Homo sapiens: one gene and its partner. The protein of the gene in region 1 interacts with the protein of each later gene in a pairwise test. Each region holds a gene or a part of one and is shown on either strand. Other genes may lie near its edges.

Region 1 (7,028 bases):
AACATACATATTTATAAATTAAAAGTACAAGTAATTTTTTTAGTCTTGGTTAAAATATGAATTGTTTTCTCTGTACATTGTGGATTGTATAACCCTTAGTTTATTTTGTTTTTTATTTTTAGTTTAAGAATAATAATTCATTATTTTAAATATAATGTATTTATGTGTGTTTTTTAATACAAAATCTTTTTATTTATTTATTTTTTTTTTGAGACAGGGTCTCACTGTGTCACCCAGGCTGGAGTGCAGTGGCATGATGTCAGCTCACTGCAACCTCTGCCTCCCAGGCTCAGGCAATCCTCCCACCTTAGCCTCCGAGTATCTGGGACTACAGATGTGCACCACCATGCCCGGCTAATTTTTGTATTGTTTGTAGAGACAGGGTTTTGCCACGTTGCCCAGCCTGGTCTCGAGCTGCTGAGCCCAAGTGATCCTCCTGCCTCGGCCTCCTAAAGTGCTGGGATTACAGGCATGAGCCACCATGCCCGGCCGTGTTTTCTTTTTTAATCAAAATTTAATATAATTTGAAATCTAGTTCAAACAGAATTAAACTTTGAAGTTGTCATAATCTCATCCTGGAAATTAGGATTATCCCTAGTCTGGAATATTATCATTGGATTGATGATACCAAGCCACACCCAGAAATTTGGTAACTGTACTATGGAGCTTCTCTCTTTTTTTTTTTTTTTGTTTTTTTTTGAGGCAGAGTCTCGCTGTCGCCCAGGCTGGAGTGCAGTGGCGCGATCTCGGCTCACTGCAGGCTCCGCCCCCCGGGGTTCATGCCATTCTCCTGCCTCAGCCTCCAGAGTAGCTGGGCCTACAGGCGCCCGCCACCTCGCCTGGCTAATTTTTTGTATTTTTAGTAGAGACAGGGTTTCACCGTGTTAGCCAGGATGGTCTCGATCTCCTGACCTCGTGATCCGCCCGCCTCAGCCTCCCAAAGTGCTGGGATTACAGGCCTGAGCCACCACGCCTGGCCAGAGCTTCACATTTTTATCTTATCCCAGTGTATCCACAAGATCATATCAAATCTAATATTAAACAATTGAGTTGTGGATAAAATGGCATAACTTTGAAATCCATTTCATCTCTATAAATATATTAAGTATTGGTCAAAATAAGTGAATTTTAGGTCTTTCTTAATCATTTTTGGTGTTGATTCAGATTGGCATCAATCAACCAACATACCCTGATTCTTTTCAGGAAGGCATTGCTCCCTCCCCAACATTTTACGCTGCGGCTTTACCATAAAATGAATTTGTTCTCTTTTTATCACAAATGATGGAAATTTTTAGCTTCTTATTTATTTTTCATAAAATTTTATCATAATCAAATTGAAAATTTTTCAGACAATTCAAAATACCTTGCCCTTCAAATTTGAAGTATCATTATTTATATGCCACCAAACCAAGTCTGTGTTTTTATAAGAGGGATATAGACAGAAGGACTTTGTGGAGGTAACAAAAGTATGTGATCTCATGCAACAGTTGGGGCATGTTCAACAACAACCACCACAACAAAAAGTATGTGATGTATTTCATCATACTTCTACAGTGTGCTTATATTATGATACTCTTTGACATATTCCATACAGGAGTCTTTGATTCTCTTTCTTAGGCTATATTGTAAAGTATTTGAGTAAAATACCCCATATCTCAAGTTCTTGTGAAGTATTTCTCATATAGATCAGTGACATTAATTGTGTATTGCAGGAGAGGAGTATAGTATACTATATAACCCAAGACAGATAGAATGGTCATTTTTATATTTCTTATACCTATTTCATCATTATTTTACTCCCGTGCCATTTGTGTATTCACTACTTATGAATACACAATGAAAATGAATGGTTGTATGTTGCACAGGAGCCACCAATGCCTTTAGCTACTGGTTCTCTTTCATCCATTGTGATTTAAAGTAAACCAGTATTGGCTGGGCATGGTGGCTTACACCTGTAATCCCAGCACTTTGGGAGGCTGAAGCGGGGAGATCACTTGAGCCCAGGAGTTTGAGACCAGCCTGGGAAACACAGCAAGACCTTATCTCTATAAAAATAAAATAAACCAATCTTACATTTGTTAGTGTAGCAGAAACCAGCCTTCTTCGAAGTGGTCTTGGTGTGATTCTCCTATCCGTTATCAAAAACTTGAAGCTGTGATTTGCCTGAGGTAAGACATCTTGGGTACACTGAAATCAAATATTTAATTTTTTTGGTGAAAAAATAGTCTATGATATATATCCTGTGTTGCTTTCACCATAATGGATTGGTTATTGAATCAAACATATGCTGATTGCTGTGCATCTGCCAGTTAAGGCTGAGGTAAGAACAGAAATTAGTTGTCAAGAGATAAACTTACTAGCTGAGGTATTTGTAAGGGAGTTACAGAAGTGATATTCCAAAACAGCAGTGGTCCCTAAAACTCAGCAGAAAAGCAGAGTAAATACTACTCATCATCATATCCCTAGCATTTAGCAAGAGTGTGTGGCACAAAGTAGACACATGGTAAATATTGGTTAGGCGAGTGAATGGGTTAATGTATGAAAAAAAAAAATAGGAACCAGTGCCTATCTGCCTTTCCATCTATTGAAAAATCACTATAAAATACATAGATAACCTTTAAGCCATTGAAACTCATCCAGTTGAGTTAAAAGGATTACTACATCAAGGTTAGTTGCATTGCAGGTCATCCTACTTAAATATGGCTTTTTAAAATTAAATATATTGTAGGTGGTAGATCTTTCATCCATGGAGAAAATTTTAATGTTAGCATTTGTCTTTTCTCTACACTTTCTTTTTTTTTTCAAGCTCTGCCTCCCGGGTTTACGCCATTCTCCTGCCTCAGCCTCCCAACTAGCTGGGACTACAGGCACCCGCCACCACGCCCAGCTAATTTTTTATGTTTTCAGTAGAGACAGTATTTCACCATGTTAGCCAGGATGGTCTCGATCTCCTGACCTCGTGATCTGCCCACCTCGACCTCCTGAAGTGCTGGGATTACAGGCGTGAGCCACTGTGCCCGGCCTCTTTCCTCTACACTTTCGTTATCATCTTCCAGTCTTTGGAAGACAGTCCATCCTTTTTCTGATTTTTCTACTCTTGCCCATTATGTAGGAACAACACGGCATCTGATAGATTTACGTGGTGAGATTCTCTTGTAGCAAAGATAGAAGGTCCAGGGAATTTTTGTAACCATGTCCATGACACACATGAACTATGTTAATATTACTAATAACATACCCAGAATAAAAACATATAAATAAAGATTATCCAGTACAAACCAGTATAGAACTTGGATTTGAGGTACTATTATTGCCTATGCTGTATAACTGACTATAAAATGAGGCATAATTTTCTCCTTCTAGTTGTATTGTACATGTGCTATGAGAGCTTGTACTGATTTTTCCTCTAATCAGTTTCATTCTATTTGTGATAAAATAGCTAGTAACAAGAAATAATACTTAAGATTAAATTGTTGAGCAACCCTAAAGTCTTCATAACTCTGTAGTAGCAGCCTACACCCATTTTTTAAGATGGGTCTTGCTGTGTTGCCCAGGCTGGTCTCAAACTCCTGGGCTCCAGTGATCGTCAGCTTCCAAGTAGCTGGGATTACAGGCATGTGCCACTGTGCCTGGCACAATACTTTTTGGCAGTTATCTCCATTTGAAATAAATCTATTGTAAAATGTGTGCCAAGAACAGTATATTATTTGGAAAATAGTACAATAAAAAGAGCAAAGATCTTGAAGCAGCTTTTCAAATTTAAAATATTTTAAATGTATTTTAATTATACAAAGACAAACTTTTGGGGGAATAATTGTGATAATTGCTTCCTTTCTGCTCAGGAACATTTTAAAATATAAATATGTAGGCAAGCTAAATGTATGTATTAATTCATAAAAGCCAGATGCAAAAGTATATAATGAGGATGAGCTAAAACTATATGCGTATATATGCATGTTTCAGAGGGATATGCTGAAGGTATTATATTAGTATTAGGGTGGAAGTTTAGTTACTGTATTATATAAAATGGAGGCTTAACGGGAGTCATCTTAAGATTTTTAGAAAAATTAATCAATCGAGGGGTAGCTGCTGGGGTATTCATGGTTAAAATATGATTTCTGGGCTCTCTGGATTGCATCACAACCCAGAAATGAAACTAATAGAAAATCACAGAAATGAAACTAATAGAAAATAAATTTAAATGTTACTTGTTTATCTTCACGTAGTTGAACTCCAGGCAGTTTTTATTGTCTTTTTTATATTTTTACTGTTATTTCTGTGGTAAGCGTGCATTGCTTTTATACTTAGAAAAAGATATATACTTTCTGATAAAGCAATTGAATCACAAATGTAGTTTTATCTTACTCTGTAGCTGGAAAATACTGATAAGTTTTAAGTATTTTTGTGTGTATAAATGGTAATGTGGGAGCTGGGCTTGGTGTCCCACACTTTTAATCCCAGGACTTTGGAAGGCCAAGATGGGAGGATTGCTTGAGGCCAGGAGTTCAAGATCAGCCTGAGCAACAAAGCAAGACCTCACTCACTTCTACAGAAAATTTTAAAAATTAGCTGGGTATGATGGCGCATGCCTTCTACCTACTCAGGAGGCTGAGATGGGAGGATCATTTGAGCCCAGGAGTTTGAGGCTACGGTGAGCTAGGATTGTGCCACTGCACTCCAGCCGGGGTGACAAAACAAGACCTCATCTCTAAAAAAGTAATAACAAAATAAATAAACGGTAATTTGATGTGGTGGCTTGCTTTTTAAAAATAATGCCTTAATATTTTTATGTCTTTAAATAAGACAGGTTTCTGCTTGGTATCAAAGGAACCTGGGGAAAGAAGAATGAAAACTAATTAATTAATTTTCTTTTACTTTTAGATGCCAGAATTCCAGAAAAGTTCAGTTCGAATCAAGAACCCTACAAGAGTAGAAGAAATTATCTGTGGTCTTATCAAAGGAGGAGCTGCCAAACTTCAGGTGAATAATTATCAAGAAGCCTTGGCTGTGTGTGTTGGCTCATGCCTGTAATTCCAGCACTTTGGGAGACTGAAGCAGGAGGATCACTTGAGCCCAGGAGTTCGAGACCAGCCTGGGCAACATAGTGAGACCCCATCTCTATTTAAAAAAAAAAAAAAATGGCCGGGCATAGTGGCTCACACCTGTAATCCTAGCACTTTGGGAGGCCGAGGCGGGTGGACAAGGCTGAGGTCAGGAGTTCGAGACCAGCCTGGCCAACATGGTGAAACTCTGTCTCTACTAAAAAATACAAAAATTAGCCGGGCCTGGTGGCGCATGCCTGTAATCCCAGCTACTTGGGAGGCTGAGGCAGGCTAATCACTTAACCCCGGGAGGCGGAGTTTGCAATGAGTTGAGATCATGCCACTGCACTCCAAAAATAAAAGCTTAATAATAAAGGCTTCTTTTTTTTTTTTTTTTTTTTCTTTTGAGATGGAGTCTCGCTCTGTTGCCCAGCCTGGAGTGCAGTGGCGCAATCCTGGCTCACTGCAACCTGCTCCTCCTGGGTTCAGGCGATTTTCGTACCTCCGCCTCCCCGAGCAGCTGGGATTACAGGTGCCAGCCACCACAACCAGCTAATTTTTTTGTTTTTTGAGACTGAGTATTACTCTGTTGCTCAGGCTGGAGTGCAGTGGCACGATCTCAGCTCACTGCAACCTCTGCTTCCCGGTTCAAGCAGTTTTCCCTCCTCAGCTTCCAGAGCAGCTGGGATTACAGGTGCCTGCCACCACACCCAGCTAATTTTTATATTTTTAGTAGAGACAGGGTTTCGCCATGTTGGCCAGGCTGGTCTCAAACTCCTGGCCTCAAGTGATCCATCCACCTCGGCCTCCCAAAGTGCTGGGATTACAGGCGTGAGCCATCATGGCCCAGCCTTATTTTATTTTTAATGTTAAAGCCGACTCATTCATCTCCTGTTTGATAAAATCTGAGTACAGCAAGTTTAGGTAGACAGTTTTTGCCTATCCTTTAGGAATATAAAATCCAGAAAATATATATCTTGAGTTGTTCTAAAACAGACAGAATACCCTATTGGAAAAACAAAAGTTAATAATCCTGAAATACTCTTAAGTTTTTATTAGTCTTAAGTAAGAAGCTAACTCATGCTGTGTACAAGCATTAAACCATTTTAAGGATAATATTTAAAAGTGTTTAGTTTTATGCTGCTCTTTCATGTTTTAATCATAGTAGTTCAGATTAAGATACAGCCTTATTAAGGGGATAATTGAGTTTTTAAAAAGTTGTCTCTGTTTTAAAGGAATGTGTTACATGTAAATTAAATCAACAATCTGGATATTCTGTAAAAAAAAAAATTATTCCTTTTTTAAAACATTTCTGAAAAATAATATTTAACCCAGTCTCCTAAGTTTCAAGAGCTGGCCAGCTATTTCAATGTGCATTCATTCATTGGTATAGTTTAAATAAGCAAGTTAAATCCAGCATGTAATGGTATCAGTAACTAAGAGCTTCATATAGTTGAATTGCTTCCACTGCATTTTTGTGCATTGACCAAGTTGGTCGAAAATCTCTAGTGAGAAGAGTAGCCATATCACCTGCAATTGCAAATTCCCATACCAATTAATCAGATTTTTTCAAATTTTTATTTATTTTTATTTATTTAATTTTGTTTTATTTTTTCGAGATGGAGTCTTATTCTGTCGCCCAGGTTGGAGTGTAGTGGCATGATCTTAGCTCACTGCAACCTGCGCCTCCCAGGTTCAAGTGATTCTCCTGCCTCAGCTTCCTGAGTAGCTGGGATTACAGGCACATGCCACCACACCTGGCTATTTTTGTATTTTTAGTAGAGACAAGGTTTTACCATCTTGGCCAGGCTGATCTCAAACTCCTGACCTCGAGTGATCTCCCCACCTCGGCCTCCCAAAGTGCTGGGATTCCAGGCATGAGCCACCGTGCCTGGCTGGATTTTTTCAATTTTTAAAGTCGATACATAATAACTGTATATATATATGCGGTACATGTGATATTTTCAAATGTATATAAAATGTGCA
Region 2 (7,028 bases), on another chromosome or scaffold:
CCCCTGTCTCCACTCACCGGAACAGGGACTCCCCCAGGGAGGAGAGGTACTCCAGAAAGATTTCTTCTGTGACTTCTGTACTCCCCACATCAACCACAGAGTCTGGAGGCCCAAGCAATGTCCCTCCCTAAAAGAGCCAACCCAAAGGAAGTCATTAAGTTACCATCTCCACTGAATGTTTTAATGTGGCTTCCCACAGTAGACCACAAACACTCTGTTCTGACTTTTTTTTTTTTTTTTTTTTTTTAGACGGAGTTTCTCTCGTCACCCAGGCTGGAGTATAATCTCAGCTCACTGCAACCTCCGCCTCCCGGGTTCAAGTGATCCTCCTGCCTCAGCCTCCCAAGTAGCTGAGATTACAGGTGCCTGCCACCATGCCCAGATAATTTTTTGTATTTTTAGTAGATACAGGGTTTCACCATGTTGGTCAGGCTGGTCTCAAACTCCTGACCTTAAGTGATCCACCCACCTCGGCCTTCCAAAGTGCTGAGATCACAGGTGTGAGCTACTGCGCCCAGCCTGACTTCATATTTAACTTGCAGAGCACCCTGGGCAGATGAAGAATGTGATTTGCTATTTGTATCAAGGATGCAATAGCTTAGAAGCATTGGTGTCCAATCCTTTGGCTTCCCTGAGGCACACTGGAAGAAGAATGGTCTTGGGCCACACACAAAATACACTAACACTAATGATAGCTGATGAGCTTAAAAAAAAAAAAAGATAAAAAAATCTCATGTTTTAAGAAACTTTACAAATTCACGTCAGGCCACTTTCAAAGCTGTCCTGGGCTGCGTATGGCCCACAGGCTGCAGGTTGGACAAGCTTGGCTTAGAGCTTTCTGGTCACTTTTCATTGCCATGTGCTGGCAGCATAGTTAGGAGTCGGACTTCTTGTTTCTAGAGGGGAGGGGGGGCCCTGGGAAGCTGATTCTCTTGCAGCTCTGACTCCTGATGCTGTCCACTTACTCAGCTGAGAAAGAGAAACCCAGAATCTGAAGTCTACTTTTGTCCCCAGTATGTCTCATCATGAGGACAGAACAGGACAACAGAAATGGCTCACACTTCACAGGCCATCTCTCCATGCCTATTTGCATAAAGTATGCAGCCAGTTTTTCTTATGATATACTTGATATCCCGTGTAATAATGGAAAAACGAGGACGGTGAGAAATCTGGCAGGCTGGCAGATATTTCCATAATTCAGTTCTTTTTGGATCTGTGAGCCTAATCCTTGCCCTATCACCATCATAGGGCAAGGGAGTTAATGGCTCCCGAAAGGCCTACAGAAAACCCTCAGCCATGTGGTTAACAGACTGCCAGAGAAAACTGAAGGAGAGACTGAGGTTGAGTGGGGAAACCAGCCACTGGGGAAGCAACGGGATCAGCAGGAGAACAAATCTGGGAAGGGATAACACTCCAGAACAGAGCTCCCTGAAAAGATCATTCATTCATAGCCACTGAGCACCTCCTACATAGCTGACATTGTTCTGGGCACTGAGGAAAGCATGGTGAGCAAGATAACCATGGTAGGCAGAGAACAATTATCTCAGAGTTGTAAGAAACTAAAAGGTCACTCTTTGACCCCTCTTATTCACTCATATAACAACTATGGATTGAGAACTTATTATGTGTCAGGCCTTATGCTAGGCACTGGGGCTGTGGTGTGGACAAAATAGATGAGATTCTTGCCGTTAAGAAGCTTAGTGTAGCAGGGAAGGGAAACTGAAAAATCCCCTTAACCAGTATATAATTATGAGCTGCAATTAAGGGGAGGCTGGAAAAGTACAGAATGCCAACAGTACGTATGACAGGAGACCTTCCCGGTCTGAGGGATCAGGGAAGACTTGCCTGAGAAAGTGACACAACTCAAATCTGAAGGATGGAGAGGCGTAACCAGGTGAAGGATCAAGAAGGTGTACTGATGTCAGAGTGCAGGTTTCAATGTCTACGGTGTGTTCAAAGAATGAGAAGAGAGTGAGGGTTGGGAGGGAACAACCTAAAAGAGGCTGGCCAGAGTCAGAGTCAGAGACCAGATCAGGTAGGTCCTGGGAGGCCATGCTGAGTTTTCTGGCTTTTATTCCAAAAGCAATGGGAGAATTCTGGCTTATGCAGTAGATTGCTTGAGCCCAGGAGTTTGAGATCAGTCTGGGCAACATAGGGAGATCCTATCTCTAAAAAAATAGAAAAAAATAGCAGGGCGTGGTGGTGCTGAGTCCTAGCCACTCAGGTGGCTCAAGTGGGAGGATTCATTGAGCCTGGGAGGTGGAGGCTGCAGTAAGCAAGACTGTGCCACTGCATTTCTGGCCTGGGTGACAGAGCAAGACCCCGTCTCAAAAAAAAAAAAAAAATCCTTCCTGTAGGATGTAGCAAAAACAAACAAACACACAACCAAAATGAATGGCTGCTTGGCCATTGCTTGAGCACCTACTGTGACAACACTTGGATAGCTGATAGAAATTTTTGGAAAAGGCTGGGCGCTGTGGCTCACGCCTGTAATCCCAGCACTTTGGGAGGCCGAGGTGGGCTAATCACGAGGTCAGAAGTTTGAGATCAGCCTGGCCAACATGCTGAAACACCGTATCTACTAAAATATACAAAAAATTAGCTGGGTGTAGTGGCAGGCACCTGTAATCCCAGCTACTCGGGAGGCTGAGGCAGGAGAATGGCGCGAACCCGGGAGGCGGAGCTTGCAGTGAGCCGAGATCGCACCACTGCACTTCAGTCTGGGCGACGGAGCGAGACTCCATCTCAAAAAAAAAAAAAAAAAAAAAAAAAAAAGAAATTTTCGGAAAAGGGTGTGGGCTTTAGTGTGATAATCCTGGGTTCTAGGACTGGTGTCCCTTATTGGCTGTTTAAGTTTGGGCAAGTCTTGATGCTTCTCAGAGCCCTCATCATTCAGCTTAACATCAGTTGCGTTCCTAGGATGAGCCGGACACTGTGCAGGGGATGGAGATGGAAGGTCTCAGCTCGCAAGGAGCTTACACAGTTCCCTGTGGAGAACCAGAAACAGCTCATTTCACCATAACATGCTCTCTGTGAGACAGAAGGACCCACACGTGCCATGGGAACAGAGAGGAGAGGAACTGGCTGGGGTGTCTGGGAAAGGTTTTATTGAGCCAAGTCTTCAGGTGGCTTTGAGGAACAATGCCAGAAGTCCATAGTAGAAGCAAAGCTCCTGGTCTACAGGAGCCCCCAGGAACCTGAGACTGCAGGACAGAGTGTAGGGGAAGACACTCACCGGGGGGCAGCTGGAGATACCACCACTGCCGAAGAAGAACTCATCCTTGTGCACAACTATGGATGTGTGCCTGTCACACAGAGAGAGACACAGTAAGCCAGAAAACTTAAACTTTTGAGAAAAAGCAAACACCATAATGCAATGAGAGTAATTTCTGCCCAAGGATAGGACTGTGGGGACCAGTCTTATAAAACCAACAAACCAAAGGTATGAATATGATAAATACCACAGATCAGGGCTTCTCAATCTTGGCACTATTGACATTTGAGGCTGGATACTTCTTTGTTGTGTGGGGCTGTCCTGTGCATTCTAGTCTGTTGAGCAGCGTCCCTGCCTCTATCCACAAGATGCCAGTAGCATCCTCCTCCCTGTATGACAACCAAAAATATCTCTGGACATGGCCAAATGTCCCAGGGTGAGAGAGCAAAAGAACTGATGAGAAGCACTGCTTTAGGGCTTGAAGATTTATAGCATGGAGAGCTAGGTTTCATGCTGGAAGCCACAGACTAGAACCTGAAATGCATAGAGTGCTGCCTTGTTTCAAAACTAGTCAAAGTAAGGAGACCCACCCAACTTACCAGATGCCTTCCAGTTGTTTCCCTGTGGAGAGAAGAAGAGATTTAGCCACTTGGGACTAGAATAAGTGGCCCCTCAGCCTTGGTAAATTCATGACATCACTCAAACCCAGGGTAACCTGTCATAAACCTCTTGAGGGACTTTCTAGGAATGCAAGTCCCCTCCAGTAAGGTCTTTAGGTTGTGACAGAGTGTAAGTAAGTTGAAAAGTAATGAGAGTCTTTTATCAGAATGCAAGATTAAAAACACTAGTATAAAGGTACCCCAGTTTTATGTCTGCTATTCTTTCCTCTTTGGGGTCAATTCAGCTATGCCTTTTTAACTTCTCTGTCTCACGTACAGTAAGACTATAGTAATACAATGAATGTTATTACTCATTTCTTCATTGAGGTGAAATCCTTCAGAAACTGATAGGATAAAACTTTGCAAATGCTATCCATTTAAATAGTTAAAGCACGTTATTCTACCTCTATGTGCCAGAAACAATGTTAGGTGTGGAAATGCAAACAGGAACGTATCACTTTCCTGCCCTTGAGAAGCTCAAAGTCAAATGGACTGAGACACACAAATAATTAACTAAAACACAATGTTAATATGCTGTATCATAGTGGTAAAAATAAGGTACTAAATATAATAAACTACTTTTGTGAGCTTCCATTACCAATGACAAGTAAGGGCAGGGATGGACATTTCTGTGGGAGAGAACAAGATGTGCACATGCATGGCTGTGAAGTCTAAAGCCTGCAGGGCAGAGTGAAGGGGGCAGTGATGGTGCCAAGGGGAGGAGCGGCCAACAGGATGGCCAGCAAAGCGGGCAGGCCTGGACTCAAAGAGGCTGTGAGGCTGGAGAGTGCCTTGATCAGATCCATGTTCGGAAAAGATAACTGTAGTTGTGGGATAGCAGATGAATTGGAGGGAAGAGAGCAGACCAAGCAGACCATCACAAGAGTCCATGAGAGATACTCTACAGCAGTGCTCAGGAGGCAGAGGAAGGGCATTGAAAGACGTGGAGTGTCAGCAAACATCACCCACTCACTCCTGCTTATCACTTCACACGGCGACATGGCAGATTACTGATTGCTAACTGCTACCTTCGCTGTTTGCCCTGTGCCTTTCTTTTTTTTAGAGGCAGAGTCTCTCTGTTGCCCAGGCTGGAGTGAAGTGACGTGATCTCGGCTCATTGCAACCTCTGCCCCCCGGGTTCAAGTGATTCTCATGCCTCAGCCTCCCAAGTAGCTGGGATTACAGGCATGCACCACCAAGCCCGGCTGATTTTTGTATTTTTAGTAGAGACAGGATTTTGCCATGTCGGCCAGGCTGGTCTCGAACTCCTCGCCTCAAGTGATCCACCTGCCTCAGCCTCCCAAAGTGCTAGGATTACAGGCATGAGCCACCACACACTTGGCATAGCATCCTCAGAGATAGTTAAGGGGACCATATGGGTTCAGATCCTGGATTTTCCACTTCCTAGTGGTGGATCTTGGGCAAGTTTACCCAGCCTGTTTAAGTCTGTTTCTCCAGTTCAGAGTTGCTGTGACTGGTAATGTTAATGTATAGAAAGCTTCACAGTATGTGATATACAGATGTCTGATAAATGGAGGCTCTTATTAGGTACAATGACCTCCTTGGGGAAAAGGGTAAAGACTTCCAGAAGATAAAAATAAATTCTACTTCAGACATGTCACAGTGGCCCACCCCTGTAATCCCAGCACTTTGGGAGGCCGAGGCAGGCAGATTACTTGAAGCCAGGAGTTCAAGACCAGCCTGGCCAACAGAGAAACCCAGTCTTTACTAAAAATAAAAATAAAAAAACTCTCTGGGTGTGGTGGCATGCACCTGTAGTCCCAGCTACTCAGGAGGCTGAGGCACGAGAATTGCTTGAACTTGGGAGGCAGTGAGCCGAGATTGCGCCACTGTACTCTAGCCTGGGCAACAGAGTGAGACCCTGTCTCAAATAAAACAAAAAATAGGCCAGGTGTGGTGGCTCACACCTGTAATCCCAGCACTTTGGGAGGCCGAGGCGGGCAGATCACATGAGGTCAGGAGTTCGAGACCAGCCTGGTCAACAACCCCGTTTCTACTAAAAACACAAAATTAGCCGGGCATGGTAGTGCATGCCTATAGTCCCAGCTACTCGGGAGGCTGAGGCAGGAGAATCGCCTGAACCCAGGAGGCAGAGGTTGCAGTGAGCCGAGATTGCGCCATTGCACTCCAGCCTGGGCAACAAGAGCAAAACTCTATCTTAAAAAAAAAAAAAAAAAAAGACAAGGTACGGTGGCTCACGCCTGTAATCCCAGCACTTTGGGAGGCCGAGGCAGGCGGATCACAGGTCAGGAGTTCAAGATTAGCCTGACCAACATGGTGAAACCCTGTCTCTACTAAAAATACAAAAATTAGCTGGGCATGGTGGCAGGCACCTGTAATCCCAGCTACTCGGGAAGCTGAGGCAGGAAAATCGTTTGAACCTGGGAGGTGGAGGTTGCAGTGAGCCGAGATCGTGCCACTACTGTACTCCAGCCTGGGCAACAGGGTGAGACTCTGTCTCAAAAAAAAAAAAAATTCTACTTCAGTATTGGTAAGTAAAATCTAAGAACAGATTTCAACATCCAGCAAATTAATATGAAATGCTATATCTATTTTACATGTAAAATTCCATTCTTTGCTGTTAGTGTTCCCAGGCTAAATGGAATAACAAGAAAATGAAATGTAGCGGAGTACTTCTGCCTCTGTTCCAATTCCAGAGATCAGTCTGCTTTTCACCAAGAGATCTGCTGCTCTGGCCCGGAAGACCACAAGTGGGCCGGGCGTGGTGGATCACCTGAGGTCAGGAGTTTGAGATCAGCCTGGCCAACATGATGAAACCCCGTCTCTACTAAAAATACAAAAATTAGCTGGGCGTGGTGGCAGGCGCCTGTAATCCCAGCTACTTGGGAGGCTGAGGCAGAAGAATCACTTGAACCCAGGAGGCGGAGGTTGCGACGAGCTGAGATGGCGCCATTGTACTCCAGCCTGGGTGAAAAGAGCGAAACTCTGTCTCAAAAAAAAAAAAAAGACCACAAGTGGATAGAGGGATCCTAGCCAGGGGTTTCTGGGGATAGCACCCTAAAGAATGTGAGGCAGGTTCTGACCTTATCCAAACTGAGGTGAAATTTCACAGTGGTTGATGAGAACCAGACTGGATGCCAAAGGGGAGTGGTAATCCATTTAGGACGAGCATC

What was found. Proteins that work in one complex are often made in the same cells at the same time.
Region 2: the proteins of NT5C3A (region 1) and DESI1 interact in binary tests that used the Homo sapiens proteins (3 or more experiments, as listed by UniProt).

Annotation. Positions count from the first base shown.
Region 1 is NC_000007.14:33,024,769-33,031,796, reverse strand, and holds part of NT5C3A (cytosolic 5'-nucleotidase 3A), read left to right. Parts: intron 1-2,082; exon of another isoform or gene 2,083-2,168; intron 2,169-4,881; coding exon 4,882-4,980; intron 4,981-7,028. UniProt on the Homo sapiens protein: Nucleotidase which shows specific activity towards cytidine monophosphate (CMP) and 7-methylguanosine monophosphate (m(7)GMP). CMP seems to be the preferred substrate.
Region 2 is NC_000022.11:41,604,027-41,611,054, forward strand, and holds part of DESI1 (desumoylating isopeptidase 1), read right to left. Parts: intron 3,836-7,028; coding exon 3,814-3,835; intron 3,604-3,813; exon of another isoform or gene 3,500-3,603; coding exon of another isoform or gene 3,462-3,499; intron 3,306-3,461; coding exon 3,236-3,305; intron 128-3,235; coding exon 18-127; intron 1-17. UniProt on the Homo sapiens protein: Protease which deconjugates SUMO1, SUMO2 and SUMO3 from some substrate proteins. Has isopeptidase but not SUMO-processing activity. Desumoylates ZBTB46. Collaborates with UBQLN4 in the export of ubiquitinated proteins from the nucleus to the cytoplasm.